Homo sapiens: one gene and its partner. The protein of the gene in region 1 interacts with the protein of each later gene in a biochemical or structural test. Each region holds a gene or a part of one and is shown on either strand. Other genes may lie near its edges.

The links.
Region 2: of the proteins of ETV4 (region 1) and STK11, one has a biochemical effect on the other in vitro, tested with the Homo sapiens proteins (one study listed by BioGRID).

The regions. Positions count from the first base shown.
Region 1 is NC_000017.11:43,543,325-43,550,596, forward strand, and holds the start of ETV4 (ETS translocation variant 4), read right to left. Parts: upstream 3,017-7,272; 5' UTR 2,861-3,016; intron 2,576-2,860; exon of another isoform or gene 2,456-2,575; intron 2,345-2,455; 5' UTR 2,294-2,344; coding exon 2,234-2,293; intron 2,044-2,233; coding exon 1,950-2,043; intron 1,699-1,949; coding exon 1,651-1,698; intron 1,476-1,650; exon of another isoform or gene 838-1,475; intron 1-837.
Region 2 is NC_000019.10:1,215,768-1,222,791, reverse strand, and holds part of STK11 (serine/threonine-protein kinase STK11), read right to left. Parts: intron 6,525-7,024; exon of another isoform or gene 6,394-6,524; intron 4,376-6,393; coding exon 4,292-4,375; intron 3,469-4,291; coding exon 3,379-3,468; intron 2,420-3,378; coding exon 2,287-2,419; intron 2,212-2,286; coding exon 2,075-2,211; intron 1,580-2,074; coding exon 1,452-1,579; intron 844-1,451; coding exon 786-843; intron 1-785. UniProt on the Homo sapiens protein: Tumor suppressor serine/threonine-protein kinase that controls the activity of AMP-activated protein kinase (AMPK) family members, thereby playing a role in various processes such as cell metabolism, cell polarity, apoptosis and DNA damage response.

The DNA.
Region 1 (7,272 bases):
CTGACACAGACAGACATTTGTACCCTCTCCAGACCCCTGGCCAAGGGGTGGGACTTCCAAGGTAGAGAGATGAGAGCATTTTCCTCCCCCTCCCATCTCAAACCCAGGCACAGATGGACCAGCTGCTGCCAAAATGCCAACCTCAGCCCACCCCTAGCTCACAGCCCTAGGAGCTGCCCACTGTGGGGACTCTCAGCTGACAGGCAAGGAATGAAGCCCGGTGAGCCAGAGAGAAATCAGGCACTGGGAAAGGAAGTCTTTGAGAGCCCACGGAAACTGACACCTCTGCATTCTTCAGCTCTAGCCCAGCTCCAGAACCTCAGAAGAAGGATGGGGAGACGGGGCAAAGCTCTGCCTGTAAATTGGAGCTGGGCATGCAGGACTTGCAGGGTCGGGGATGATGCACACAATACCCTCAGAACCTCCAGATCCCTCCAGCACTCACACAGCCATTCAGCCATTATTTCCACAAAATGTCTTGAGTGCTTGCTCTATGCTAAATAGTCATTCTGTCAACATATATATTTTTAGAATATCATAGTGGGCAAGACAGACCTAGTCTCACTCCAAGGATCTAGTCAGGGGTCATTTTCTTTTTACTCCGAGCTTCTATGGAGAGTTCCAGGGTAGTTGGATTTGAGCTTTAAAAAAATTAGATACCCAGGGTGGAGGGATGAGGAGATCCTAAGGAAAATACCTCAAAAAGACCTCAAAAAAGGAGTTCCTAGTGTTTTGGCTTCTTCATTTTCATAGTGTTAAAATAAACCCTAAGATGGGGGTAGTTAACCCTTCCCTCTCAGAGACTGTCTAAACCACCATTTTCCCTCCCACCTGCAGCCCCACCAGCGACACCCTCAGGCCCCACCAAAACGCACTGAAGAATCCAACCAGGAAACCTCCTGAACACACCACTTCCCCATCAGACCCAGCCACGGACCCAGCCACGGACCCCACCCCAGCCAGCTCACAGCTAACTCCCCAGCACACAGGAAGGGGGGAATTTGCCTGGAGGCAGAGGTATTCAAGCGGGATGGAAGAGGGAGGAACACTTGCTATTAGAATTACAATCAAGGCTATTTGGGGAGGGAGCCCTGGGCTCTCTGTGCCAAAGGACTGCCGAAAAGAATTATTTAAACTTTTGTTGTTCTTTTGGCTTGGACAGTAAATTGTTTGGTGCTGGGGGTTGGGAAGAAGAGAAACCCAGGGGATAAGAATCAATGCTTGGGCAACTCTGGAGGATGAGTGACAAATTAATTTCTCCCCCCACCCCCCACCAACAACACCCCAACATGCACCTTGGCCTGGCGGCTTCTGCAAAACAAACTTTACAAATGAAAATTTCAACCAGGAAAATGGGCCTGGGGCCAAGTTCCATTCAAATAAGCAAATACCCCACACAATGGTCTGATTCATCCTCAAGCCTAGTTACACAAGCCTGGCTCAGGGTAGAGAAAATAAATATCAATATAAGTGTCCACGCTGGGTGCTGGGGTGAGTAGAGTGGCAAGGGACCTGGGGAGAGGGCCTTGGAGAACTCCTTGAGGCAGGGAAGGGAGAGGAGAAGTGTAGGGCTTAGGGTGGAATACCAGGGGCTACGGAGTGTCCCCCTGTCCAGCCTCCCAAAATAGAAAAGGTCACAAAACTACTCACCTTCAGCGAGCCACGTCTCCTGGAAGTGACTTAGATCCTGGAAGAGATCTGAGGGGTAAATAGTGGAATTGGAGGTGAGGTGGAGGGGACGGTAAGAGAGAAGGGGCCCTAGCAAGACCCGGTGACTCCCCTGCCTTGGGAGTAGGGACCGAGAAGAATGACCAAAATCCCTTGGAGGGCGAGTTTTTTGGGGAAACAGGCGGGGGTTCCAGAATCGGCCGTGTGTGTGTGTGTGTGTGTGTGTGTGTGTGTGTGTGTGTGGCGGAGGAGGGTCGCGGTTTGTCTCTCTTGCTCTTTACCTTCAGAGTCGAGGGGCGGCAGGGAGCCCGGGTCCATGAGCTTCCCCAGCGGGCCGATCAGCGCTTCGCGCAAGCTCCCATTTCCGGGCGATTTCTGCGAGAAGCGGGGAGAATGCCCGCGAGTCACCCTGAGGCGCTTAGTCTGGGGGACGAGGTTGGGGTCCTCGGGTGACTCAGGGGCGGGGCAGCCCAGGACTCCGCTGGGACTGCGGGGAGGGGGGCTGTGGTGAGAGTAGGGGCTGGGTGCGGGGCGGGGCGGGCGTGGAGGCCGGCGCGGCGCTCACGCTGCTGAAGGTGTAGGGCACTTGCTGGTCCAAGTATCCGGCTTTCATCCTCCGCTCCATCCGGCCGCTCCCTCCGGCCGCACGGCCGGGGCCCCAAGCGGGGGCCGAGACCTGGTGGGGGAGGGGGCTGCGTTCGCACACCGTCCAGGGAGGGCTGCGATGGGGGCGGGGAGGGGGCAGTCCCAAGGCTCTGGGTCCGACGGCGAAACTTCTCCGACTCACTGGGGCGATGGCGAGGTTTCCGCCTGCCAGGCCGAGCGCCACCACCACTCCCCTCCCGCCAAAGGCCAAAGGAGGTCCCACCTGCTCCCAGGAGCCGGGCTCGCCGTTTCTGCTTTCTGCAGCCCTGCTTTACCCGGGCTCGGTTACATAAGAACGTGTGTGTGTGTGTGTGTGTGTGTGTGTGTGTGTGTGTGTGTGTGTACGCGCGCGCGCGCGGAGGAGCAGGCGAAGCGCACACCATCGCATGCCCACAACTCCCGCGCCCCCTCCAACCCTGAATCCCAGCACCTCCCACCCCCGCCCTGGAATCTGCGGAGGCGGGTGGTGAGAGTGAGTGTGGTGTGCATTGGAGGCGAGGCGGGGAATCACAGACACTCTCCCTCCCTTTCCCTCCCGCAGCCTCACCTGAGGCCGGGGCGTCTGGGCTGGAGCCGCGGGGGGTCCCGAGCATGCCCTGGAGCCCGCACCGAGGGCCGCGGGGCTAGGCCGGAGTAAGGCGGCCCCGGCCCCGGGTCCCCAGCGCACCGACTTGTTTTTCGGGCGCAGCAGACAGTTGTGAGCCCGGGGGAGCAGCTGATTGGTGCATTTCCTTCGCTCGGCCTCAGCTCTCCACCCCCCGCCCCGCCACACCGCCCCCCGTTTCCCTTTGTTTCATTGACTTTTGTGAATGGAACCCCAGGGCTGGGCACGCCCGCCAATCCGGAGAGTCGTCCGGCCTGGCCGGGGGGCGGAGTTTCCCAGCCGCGGGGGCCAATCAGAATGTAGGGGTTGGCTCCCGGCTTCATTCAGTGCTCCGGCTCCCATTCATAAAAAAATAAAACTCGCGGCTGGAGTTCATTCATAAAGAACCGAGAGAAAAAGAGAGAAGCCGAGGACCCCGCGGCTTCTTCACCGTCTCGCCACGGTCTTGGGTCTGATGCGCCGCGTGCTCCTCCGGCTGGCGTCTGCACACGTCTCTGCATCTGCGTGTACGTGGGAGTATGAACATGTCTGTGTGCGCCCAGGAGGGAGGCGACCGGGCTTGTGTGCCCAGAGGAACAATAATAACTAGCATTTATGAAGCGCTCCGCTTCCACGTGCTCATTTCGTTCCCATAACCCGGCGAAATGGATCGTTTGTATCTTACAGATATTAAAAATGAAACTCAGAGAGGGATGGTAACTCTCCTGAGGTCACTCAGCTAGTCAGCACCTCTGGGGTTTACAGCCTCAAATCCCTCACACTCTCCTGTACACCCCTCTGAAGCCATGATTAAATGAGTTAAGCTATGTGACAACTGATACACAGTAGGTGATCAATAAATGTAAACTGGCACAGAATCCAGGCTTTTCCTCAAGGGTCTGTTCTCTGCAGAGCTGTTTTGTGACCCACTTTCTACTGATTGCAGCAGAAACCAGAAGCCCCAGGGTAGATGATTTCCGAAAGTGTAGCTCCCTCTCAGCCATCTTCCCTCTTATCTGAGAGCCAGCAAAAGGAGCAAAAGCCCCAAAGGTTCTGATGATCTGGAGGCAGGATGGGTTTCAGTTTTAGCTAAGAAGCTGGTCATAGTCTCTGTCATCTCATCCATTCACCACTTCTTTCAATAAACATTTATCGTGTCAGATACAGTGCTGGGTTCCAGGCAAGCAGCTATGTCCAAGACAGACATCTGAGGGGACCTGGGGTGCTTGGGCTGTGGCCATGGGGGCACAAAGGACATGAATCCTCAAAGGCCTTTTTGCTGAGACAATTCTCTATGTCTCCAGCCTATGCACTCCTTTGAGGACAGCCTGATTTTTTATCCTGCCTGTTTGTGATAAACACAAAAGAATGTTCAAATGCCAGGCCAGCAGGAGTGGCTTCCCAAATTCATCTAACCTAACACCCGCCACTTTACAGATGAGGCAGTGGAGTTTCAGAGAAGGAAATGACACATGTAAGCTCTTTGGGCCTGTCTGGCCAGAACTAAGGCTAAAACATACAATTGCTGTTTAGTGTTCATAAGGGCTCATTCCATGAGATCTGCTTGTGCAAATGGAAGTAAACTTCCCTTTCTATAGGTGCTGTAATATTCTATAAGGCTCATGTCTATTGTCCCTCTCCTCCAGGAAGCCTTCCATGATAGCCTGAATCAGTTCCTTTAGCCATATACAACATTCTTGACTATATCTCTGGTGTGGATGTTTTTCATCCTGCCTCATGGTATAGACATCCTTATCTATGGAGAGCTCTCCAGAGCTCATTTGCCTCTGAAAGTCCTCCTCAGCCTGTTAGCATGCTTATGAGGGTGGCATGAAATGCTTGTGTAGTGAATAGGTACAATAAAGACCAAATTAATTGAGCTTAGCAGGAACCCTGCCCAAGGAAGGAGAAACAAGCCCAAGCAAATCCCAGCTTTGGGCTGGATGGAACCAGTTTAGAGACAAGTGTGAGTTCTGGCCAAGAGAAGTGGAGAGGAGGACAGAGGGCTCTTCCTGGAAGGCAGCTTTGATGTGGTCTCCATGACAACGAAGAAGAGTCCAGTAGGTCTTTAAGTTGGTACTGGGCACTTCAGTAGGATGGGACCTCTCTAGGGATGCCAGTGCCCCTCTGGTTCTGAGTTTTTTTGTTTTTGTTTTTGAGACAGAGTTTCACTCTTGTTGCCCACACTGGAGTGCAAAGGTGCAATCTCGGCTCACTGCAACCTCCGCCTCCCGGGTTCAAGCGATTCTCCTGCCTCAGCCTCCCGAGCAGCTGGGATTACAGGTGCCCGCCACCATACCTGGCTAATTTTTTGTATTTTTAATACAGACGGAGTTTCACCATGTTGGTCAGGCTGGTCTCAAACTCCTGACCTCAGGTGATCCACTTGGCTTCCTAAAGTGCTGGGATTACAGGCATGAGCCACCAAGCCCAGCCTTTTTTTTTTTTTTTTTTTTTTTGAGAGACAGGAGGGTCTCCCTCTGTCACCCAGGTTGGAGTACAGTGGTGCCATCATAGCTTACTATAACCTCAAACTCCTGGCTTCAAGCTATCCTCCCACCTCAGCCTCCCAAGCAGCTGGGACTACAGGCATGCACTATCATGCCTGGCTAATGTGTTTGTTCATTTGTTTGTTTGTTTTTGTAGAGACAGGGTCTCACTATGTTGCCCAGGCTGCAGGTTCTGAGTTCTTATATTCTTCTGGAGGGCCCCTGGCTCCCTGGTGAGTAAGTGCCCCCTCCACATTCCCAATCCTCTCCAGCCCTGGCAGAGGCTGAGTGGCCTTCCTCCCTCAGGCTAAGAGAAGATACTGCTGCTGTCACTGACCTCTGATTGAATGTCCAGGCTCAAAACAGTGATATTTCCAAGGGGAACATTAGCCTCTTACACCACTGGAAGTAGTTGGTGGGGAGGGTATAGAGGGGCTGGAATTTCTGTTGGGAATCGAGTCACAATAACCGACATGTACAGCCATGCCCTGCTGTAAGTGCATGACCTGCATTAACTCAGGCAACCTCATAACGATCCTGTGAGGTAAGTATTAGGATTTTCATTACCATTTTACAAATGAGGAAACAGAGCCCTCACAAACACACATCTACCCCAAGGCCCCCCACAACAGACTGAGGACCACCCCAAATGGACTCACAGGCATGCAGACACTTTGAACTCACAGACTCACAGGCATGCAGACACAACAGGCCAGATGGAGGCCACACCTGAGCCAGAGATACACAGGAACACTCTTGGATGCAGGACGCTCACAGTCCCCTCCTGGACACACAGCTTCGTGGACACATGCAGCGTACTCCCTGACACCCTCCAGCACATCTTTGGTGGGGGTTGCACAGGTAAATGCTTCTTTCCCGGCTACGCTAGTAGATTGGGGGCTGAGCTCTGACCTGTTTCCCAGGAGCCTAAGTTATAAAATGTAAATGTGAGGCTTTGATATGCAAATGTTCATATAAAGGCAGGCTGTGGCTTGCTCAGGAGACTGGAATATCAGAGCACTGTGATGAGTAGGGAGAGGAAGCTATAGATTCATCTGGATCAGACATCAAGGTGGCTCAGGAGCCATCAGAGAAGCAGGCTTTCCCCAGGGCAGGTTTCAAAGAATGAGCGGCATAGGGCTGGATTTGGTTCTCTGGGTTGGGTTAGCTGGGGACATCCTGTGGGTGACCTATGCCATGTGACTGTGAGAGAAGGATGGAAGTATCCTCAAGGCCTAGCTTCCTCATGGTCTGGAAGAGCTGAGTTCCAGAGCCTTAAAGGGTGGAATCCAGTGGGGTAACCTTGGGAGACAGCTCTGCAAGGTCAGATGGATGAGATAAATAGGGTCAAGTAATGTCCTATGTCCCTTTAGTGTCTCCCAGACTGGAGACACTAGAGGAATGAACCAGACAGAGGGGTCAGGTGGTGGGGATGAAAGATGGGGAGCCTGCGGTCCTCCCCATGGGCTGGTGGGTCAGGATGACCAAAACATGCCACTCTTTGACTTCCTTTTGTCTTGTGTCATTGTCCCCTTTTCACATTGCTTCCTCTAAATTACAGGGCTTCTGGATGATGGGTACGTGGATATGTACCCCTGAAATTAACTGCCTGCACCAAGATGCCTGGTGCACATTTTTCTTTTTCTTATGTATTTATTATTTTAATGTTATAGAACTAAGCAGATTTTTTTTTTGTGGAGGAGGTGCAGGGACAAGTTGTCACTATGTCACCCAGGCTGGAGTGCAGTGGAACGATCATGTCTCATTTGCTGCAGCCTCGACCTCTTGGGCTCAAGCGATTCTCCCTCCTCAGCCTCCTGAATAGCTAGGCCTACAGGTGCTCGCCACCACGACTGGCTAATTTTTAAATTTTTTGTAGAGATGGGG
Region 2 (7,024 bases), on another chromosome or scaffold:
TGACAGATGTCCCCTCCACCCTGAGGCCTGTGTCCCAGGTGGCACTCAGAAGCCAGCACCCACCAGATGGATGCTGGCTGCAAAGCCAGCAAAGGCCAGAAGGGGGTCTGGGGGGCCCTGAGCACATCCCAGCCCAGGAGGCTATCGGGGGGCAGCCCCAGTCCCCGCCAGGCGCCCAGATGACCCGAGCTGTGCAGAGACCCCCAAGGCACAATCAGCACCAGCGCCTCAGGGGTCCGGACACTCCCACTCCCAGAGCCGGTCTCAGTGGGTGGCCTCGGGGCTCGGAGGGGCTCCAGCAGACGGCTCAAGGGCCTCCAGGGGCTGGTGCAGAGGAGCAGAGCCCACGAAGTGAGGGAGGCGGCACTGTGGGGCCTGCTGACCCCGTCCGCTGCTCTGTCTTCCCTGTCATGGAGCTGGGGGCCCTGGGCTGGATCCCAGCCACACCCTGCTGCTGGGAGCCCCAGGAGGAGGGGAAAAAGAGAGGCTCTCGCCAGTGTTTGGGACCAGCTGTGCCCTTCCTGGCGCATCTCCATGCCTAGGGCAGGGACGGACGCATGTCCTCACTCAGACCCCAGTTCGGACAAGGCGCCTGGGTCTGGCCGGTAACAGGACACTGCCCAGAGACCCCACTCGGGCCCCGAGAACTGCGGGCGCTGCACGGGGTCTGGCCCCAGCCCAGCCTGGCACCCCCACCACGCCCTGCTCTAGCGCCCGCTCAACCAGCTGCCCACATGGCCGGCCTCCCTGCAGCCTCGGCCCCACTGCCCCCAGGGGCCGCTCACCTGTGCTGCCGGATCTGCCGGATGGAGAACCTCTTGGCCGGTTCGTACTCAAGCATCCCTGAGGAGAAGCCGGCGAGGAGCCTGTCAGCTGGGCACAGGCCTGAGACCCCACCAACCGTCCCCGCCTGCCCAGCCTCTGTTGTCAGGCCCTGGGTGATACCTGGACGCTCCTAAGGGGGACCCCGCGCACAGGCGGTCTCCCTGACAGAGGCCACTCCACTCCTGGGACATGCCGGGGACAGCCTGTGCGCGGCTGGCAGGGAGACAGGGCTGGGCTGGACGGCCAGGGCGGTTCCGTTCTCCCAAGGCCACTGGGCAGATGGACGGACGGCCAGTGCCACCTGCTGCCATGCGTAGGAAGTGCAGCAGGACAACCCTGACAGACCCTGCAAGCCAGGGAGCCCCCGAGGGTGGGGCTGGGGGAGGCGCAGGGCAGCACTGCCCTCTGGGGTGGGAGTTCGGAGGGTGAACAGGGCCCAGAAGCAGGGTGGAGCTGAGGGACCTGGCAAACCAGGCCCTGCGGGGAGGTCGGCCTCTCCACTCAGTCCTCTCAATGCCTGCTGGGGTCTCGGGGCCAATAGCCCCCCACCTGACACCCCCAACCCTACATTTCTGCACAAAAGCCCCGCCTCCCTGGGGCTGCGGGCAGAGGGATGAGGCTCCCACCTTTCAGCAGGTCAGAGAGCGGGGGGCCACAGTCGCCCGGGATGGCGTAGCTCCCCTTCCCGATGTTCTCAAACAACTTGTAGATGTTGTCCCCTTCGAAGGGGTACAGACCCGTGGTGATGTTGTAGCTTCATTTCGAGGGGAGGGAAGAAAGGCGTGGTCAGTCAAGGTGGTTGACGCCCTAGGAGCCCCAGCTCTACCCCAGGGACAGAGGCGTCCCGTGGCTGCTGGACCAGAGGCCCTGTGGACTCAAGGACACCTCTGTCTTCACCACCTTCCACTAGTGGAGGCTACGGGGTAGGAGGGGAGTGTCCTCTGGACCCACCCGGGGAAGGGGCCTGGAGCTGCTGTCACCCGCCCAGCTTCCCTGTGGGGCTCTGGGAGGAGGGTCGGCCGTGCCACTCTGTGAAGATCCCTGACGGGCCAGGCTGCACTTCACACGGGTGAACCACCATCTGCCGTATGAGTTACATTTCCATAAAGTAAGCACCCCCTAGCGGCTGTGGCCAGAGAGGGTCTGGGCCGGTGGCCACGCCCTGCGCCCACAGGCCGGCAGCTGCCCAAGACGCAGAGGCCCCTCGGAGTGTGCGTGTGGTGAGTGCCCGGGGGGGCGGGGCACTTACAGGGTGACCCCAGCCGACCAGATGTCCACCTTGAAGCCGGAGAAGGTGTCCAGGCCGTTGGCAATCTCGGGCGGCTGGAAAGCCGGGGAGCCCTGGCTGGTCCGGCAGGTGTCGTCCGCCGCGAACGGGTGCAGTGCCTGTGGCGGTGCCGTGCAGCCCTCAGGGAGTGCCCGGGAGGGGGCGCCCCAGGGCCCCCCCTAGCACGTGCCTACCTCGGCCACGCCCAGGTCGGAGATTTTGAGGGTGCCACCGGTGGTGAGCAGCAGGTTCCCCGGCTTGATGTCCTTGTGCACAATGCCCTGGCTATGCAGGTACTCCAGGCCGTCAATCAGCTGACAGAAGTACCTGCGGGCAGCACACACCCGTCCTGGGGCCGAGGCCTCCCTGCCCCTCACAGGGGTCCCCTTTGCAGCTGCCTGGGAGCCTCCCAAACACCACAGGCCCAGCTGGGAAGTCACAGAAGTCCAGGCACACAGGACAGAGGAAAGGCTAGGTCCAGCAGGGAGCCACACCTGCGCCTGCAGTGGCCACCCTCGTCCGGCCGAGCCACGTCTGGCAGGGCCCCGGATGTCCACAGGTCTCATTTTCCTGTGGGCCACAGGCCGGCTGCACCCCAAAGTCTTGCTGGAACAGCAGGCCCCTCCCTGCCCCTGTGGTCCTGCAGCAGCAAGGGGCCCTGACTCTGAGGCCACAGACCTGCATCCAGGAGATCTGGTCAGGGCAGGCGGCTGCCAGCGATGGGCTGGAAGCAGGCCACTGGCCTCAGGCAGCAGGCCCAGCAAAGATGGAGGCGGGAGGTTGGCAGCAGCCCTGCCTGTGGATGCCACACATGGGGGACCCCAAAACTGTTTTTAAAAACTTGGGCCTTTACAAGGCCGGGCGTGGTAGCTCATGCCTGTAATCCCAGCACTTTGGGAGGCTGAGGCAGGCGGATCACGAGGTCAGGAGTTTGAGACCATCCTGGCTAACACGGTGAAACCCCGTCTCTACTAAAAATACAAAAAATTAGCCGGGCGTGGTGGCGGGCGCCTGTAATCCCAGCTACTCGGGAAGCTGAGGCAGAAGAATGGCGTGAACCTCGGAGGCGGAGCTTGCAGTGAGCCGAGATCGCACCATTGCACTCCAGCCTGGGCGACAGAGTGAGACTCCATCTCGAAAAAAAACACAAAAAAACAAAAAAACAAAAAAACTTGGGCCTTCATGTCAATGAATATCAGGACAAGCAGTGTGGCCTCACGGAAAGGAGCCTGCCCTGCCTGGCCCCCGGCCCCCGCCCCACCCTGGCCCCTGCCCCGCGCACGCACCCGTGGGCCTGGCACACTGGGAAACGCTTCTCCGGCACGCTGTCCAGCATTTCCTGCATGCCACACACGCAGTACTCCATCACCATATACGTGGGGCGCTAAGGACACACAGCTCAGGGGGCGGCCCCACTCACAGGCCCAGGGAGCACGGGGGCCAGAAAAGGGGCTCTGGAGGGACCCTCTGCACCCACCTTGCCCCTCCTCGGGACCAGGGCCCACCCTGCCCTCAGCCACCCCTCTGAAAAGGCCCAGGGGCCCCAGCGTCCCAGGAGGAAGGAGCCTACGGGGAAGGGGAGGACAGGGCTGACTCTTGGGGCAGCGTTCCTGCGGGGCTCACGTCCCCCACCCTGCCCATGGGCGGGGGATGGTGCCTCCTGGACGCCCCCCCAAGCAGGCTCGGGCCCATGCAGGACGGTCCCAGGGCCCCTGACCGCGTGGCTCAGGGAACACAGCCCCAGCCTCAGGACCACTTCTGGCTCTTGCTCTGGGCACAGGGCCTTAGGAAGCAAAGTCCCCGTAGGGAGGCTGTGCCCGTAAGACCCATGGGGGTGTCCACAGATGACACGAGGACACGCCCAGCCACGACCAAAATGGCCCACAACGGTCAGCCCGCGTGGCCTGTCTCAGGCAGACCGTGGCTACACCCCTGGTTAGCCTGGGAGGAGACTCTGAGAAAAAAGGGACTTGACACCCCACGGGCCCAAGACACAGGGGCCAGGGCTCAGGGCCCCTTTCAGCAAGCTGCGCAGCCATTGCCACAATGGCTGACTTCCGGGGAACCAGGGAAGGCCACGGCCCTCGTGTGCCAGTCTCCTTCAAGGAGACGGGAAGAGGAGCAGGCCTCGAGGCAGGCGGACCCAGGGCCCCAGCCCCTCCCACGGAGGCCCCGCGGTCCCAACACCGGAAAGGATATATTTTCTGCTTCTCTTCGTTGTATAACACATCCACCAGCTGGATGACATTTTTGTGCCGTAACCTCCTCAGTAGTTGAATTTCCCTGGGACAGAGAGGACAGGGGTGTATCAGCCGACCCAACGTCAGGATGATGGCCTGGATCCCTGGAGTCGGCCTCCCCATCTCCCTGTGGAAGTGGCGTACCTCCTCCCTTCCCTAGAGAGAAGCTGTGAGTTCACAGTGCTGTGGGAAAGGGCCCTGCAGGGGCCACGCGTCCAGGCTCAGGGCGGTAGGGGGTGGGAGCACAGCGCCCTCTAGTCTGTCATCGGCCGGCGAGGGCTTTGGAGGACACAGTTAGGACACTTTTTTTTTTTTCTGAGACAGAGTCTTGCTCTGTCCCTAGGCTGGAGCACGGTGGCCCGATCTCAGCTCACTGCAACCTCTGCCTCCCAGGTTCAAGTGATTTCCCTGCCTCAGCCTCCCGAGTAGCTGGGACTACAGGCACGTGTCACCACAGCCGGCTAATTTTTTTGTATTTTAGTACAGACAGGGTTTCACCATGTTGGCCAGGATGGTCTCGATCTCCTGACCTTGTGATCCGCCCGCCTCGGCCTCCCAAAGGACACTCTTAATTGAGCTTTGTAACTCAGTAACAGTTTTGCTTCCTAGAAACCAGACTACTGCAATGGTAGCACAGATGGAGCCCAGACTGTGGCAGGAGCCAGGGTGAGTTGGAGCCCTGGTGATGGCTCCGTCACACAGTACAGTCCCACGCAGCCAAGGGCTCCCAACTCCGAGGGTCCCACTCCTTGGAGGGTGGGCCGCAGGTGAGCTGGAAGGATGGCCCATAGGAAGGGGCAGGCGAAGAAGGAGACGCCACAGAAAGAGACATTGTGGGGTCCTGCCACACCCACCCGCCTGTCACTGCCCCCTCTGCAGCTGCCGCCCAGTTGGCCACGCCCACCTGCCTGTCACAAGGGTGGGGCACAACAGGCCAGAGAGCACAGCCCCCTCTGCAGCTGCCGCCCTGTCGCAGACACTTCATTTCTCCCAGCACTATAGGAGGCCGAGGCGGGTGGATCACCTGAGCTCAGGAGTTCGAGACCAGCCTGAGCAACACGGCGAAACCCTGTCTCTACTAAAAATACAAAAATTAGCCAGGTGTGGAGGTACGTGCCTCAAGTCCTAGCTACTCGGGAGGCTCAGGTGGGAGGATCACTTGAGCCTGTAGTTACCTGTGATCGTGCTACTGCACTCCAGCCTGGACAACAGAATAAGACCCTGTCTCATAAAAGAAAAAATTAAACAAAAACAAAAATGACGAGGAGCAAGGTCCTCACACCCAGTGGGTGGGCGTGGAAGCGTCTGCAGCTTCTCCAAAGGTCTGTTACCCTGTGAGCCAGCAGCTCCACTCCCAGGTACACACCCTGAGGAACAGTACACGCCACGCAGAAACGGAGCACGAGATGCTCACAGCAGCAGGACGCACAGCAGCCGAGATGTGGAACCACCCAGGGGCCCTTCCACAGACGAGGATCAGCACAGCCCATCCACGCACTCAACAAGACTCAGCCACAAAAACCAGTGAGGCTCTGACTCGAGCCACAGCCTAGCTGCACCTTGAGGATGTCACAGTGAGACACTAAAGGACACACAGTGTGTGATGCACTTTTTTTTTTTTTTTTGAGACAGGGTTTCCCTGTCGCCCAGGCTGGAGTGCACCTCCCAGGCTCAAGCGATCCTCCCATCTCAGCCCCGCAAGTAGCTGGGACTACAGACGTGTGCTACCATGCCCAGCTAATTTTTGTATTTTAGTAGAGACAGTTTCACCGTGCTGCCCAGGCTGGTCTCGTTTGAACTACTAGGCTCAAGTCATCTGCCCACCTCGGCCTCGGAAAACGCTGGGATGACAGGATCCCATTTCTTGTTTTTTTTTTTTTGGAGACGGAGTCTCACTCTGTCGCCAGGCCAGAGTGCAATGGCATGATCTCAGCTCACTGCAACCTCTGCCTCCCGGGTTCAAGCGATTTCTCCTGACTCAGCCCCTGAGTCGCTGGGACTACAGGTGCCCGCAACCACGCCCAGCTAATTTTTGTATTTTTAGTAGAGATGGGGTTTCACCATGTTGGCCAGGATGGTCTGGATCTCTTGCTCTCGTGAGTCACCGCGCCCGGCCGACAGGATCCCATTTCTATGCAATATCCAGGACAAGCCAATCCAGAGCCAGGAAGTGGATTCAGAGTGGCCAGGAGCTGGTGGAGGGGATGGAGAGTGACACAATGGGAATGGGGCTTGCTTTTGGGGTGACCGAACGTTCTGGAATTAGAAGTAGTGGTTGCACAGCCGTGTGAATGTACTTAATGCCACTGAATTGTACACTGTGAACGAATGAGTTGTACAGTATGTAAATTCCATCTCCATAGTTTTTTTTTTCTTTTTTAATTCTTAACAGGAAGCCCAAGCATGGAGCATAAAAAACAGCTGGGGGGCCAGGCGCGGTGACTCACGCCTGTAATCCCGACACTATGGGAGGCCGAGGTGGATCACCTGAGGTCAGGAGTTCGAAACCAGCCTGGCCAACATGGTGAAACCTTGTCTCTACTAAAAATACAAAAATTAGCCGGGCGTGGTGATGGGCGCCTGTAATCCCAGCTACTCAGGAGGCTGAGGCAGGAGAATCGCTTGAACCTGGGAGGCGGAGGTTGCAGAGAGTCGAGATCTCACCACTGCACTCCAGCCTGGGTGACAGAGC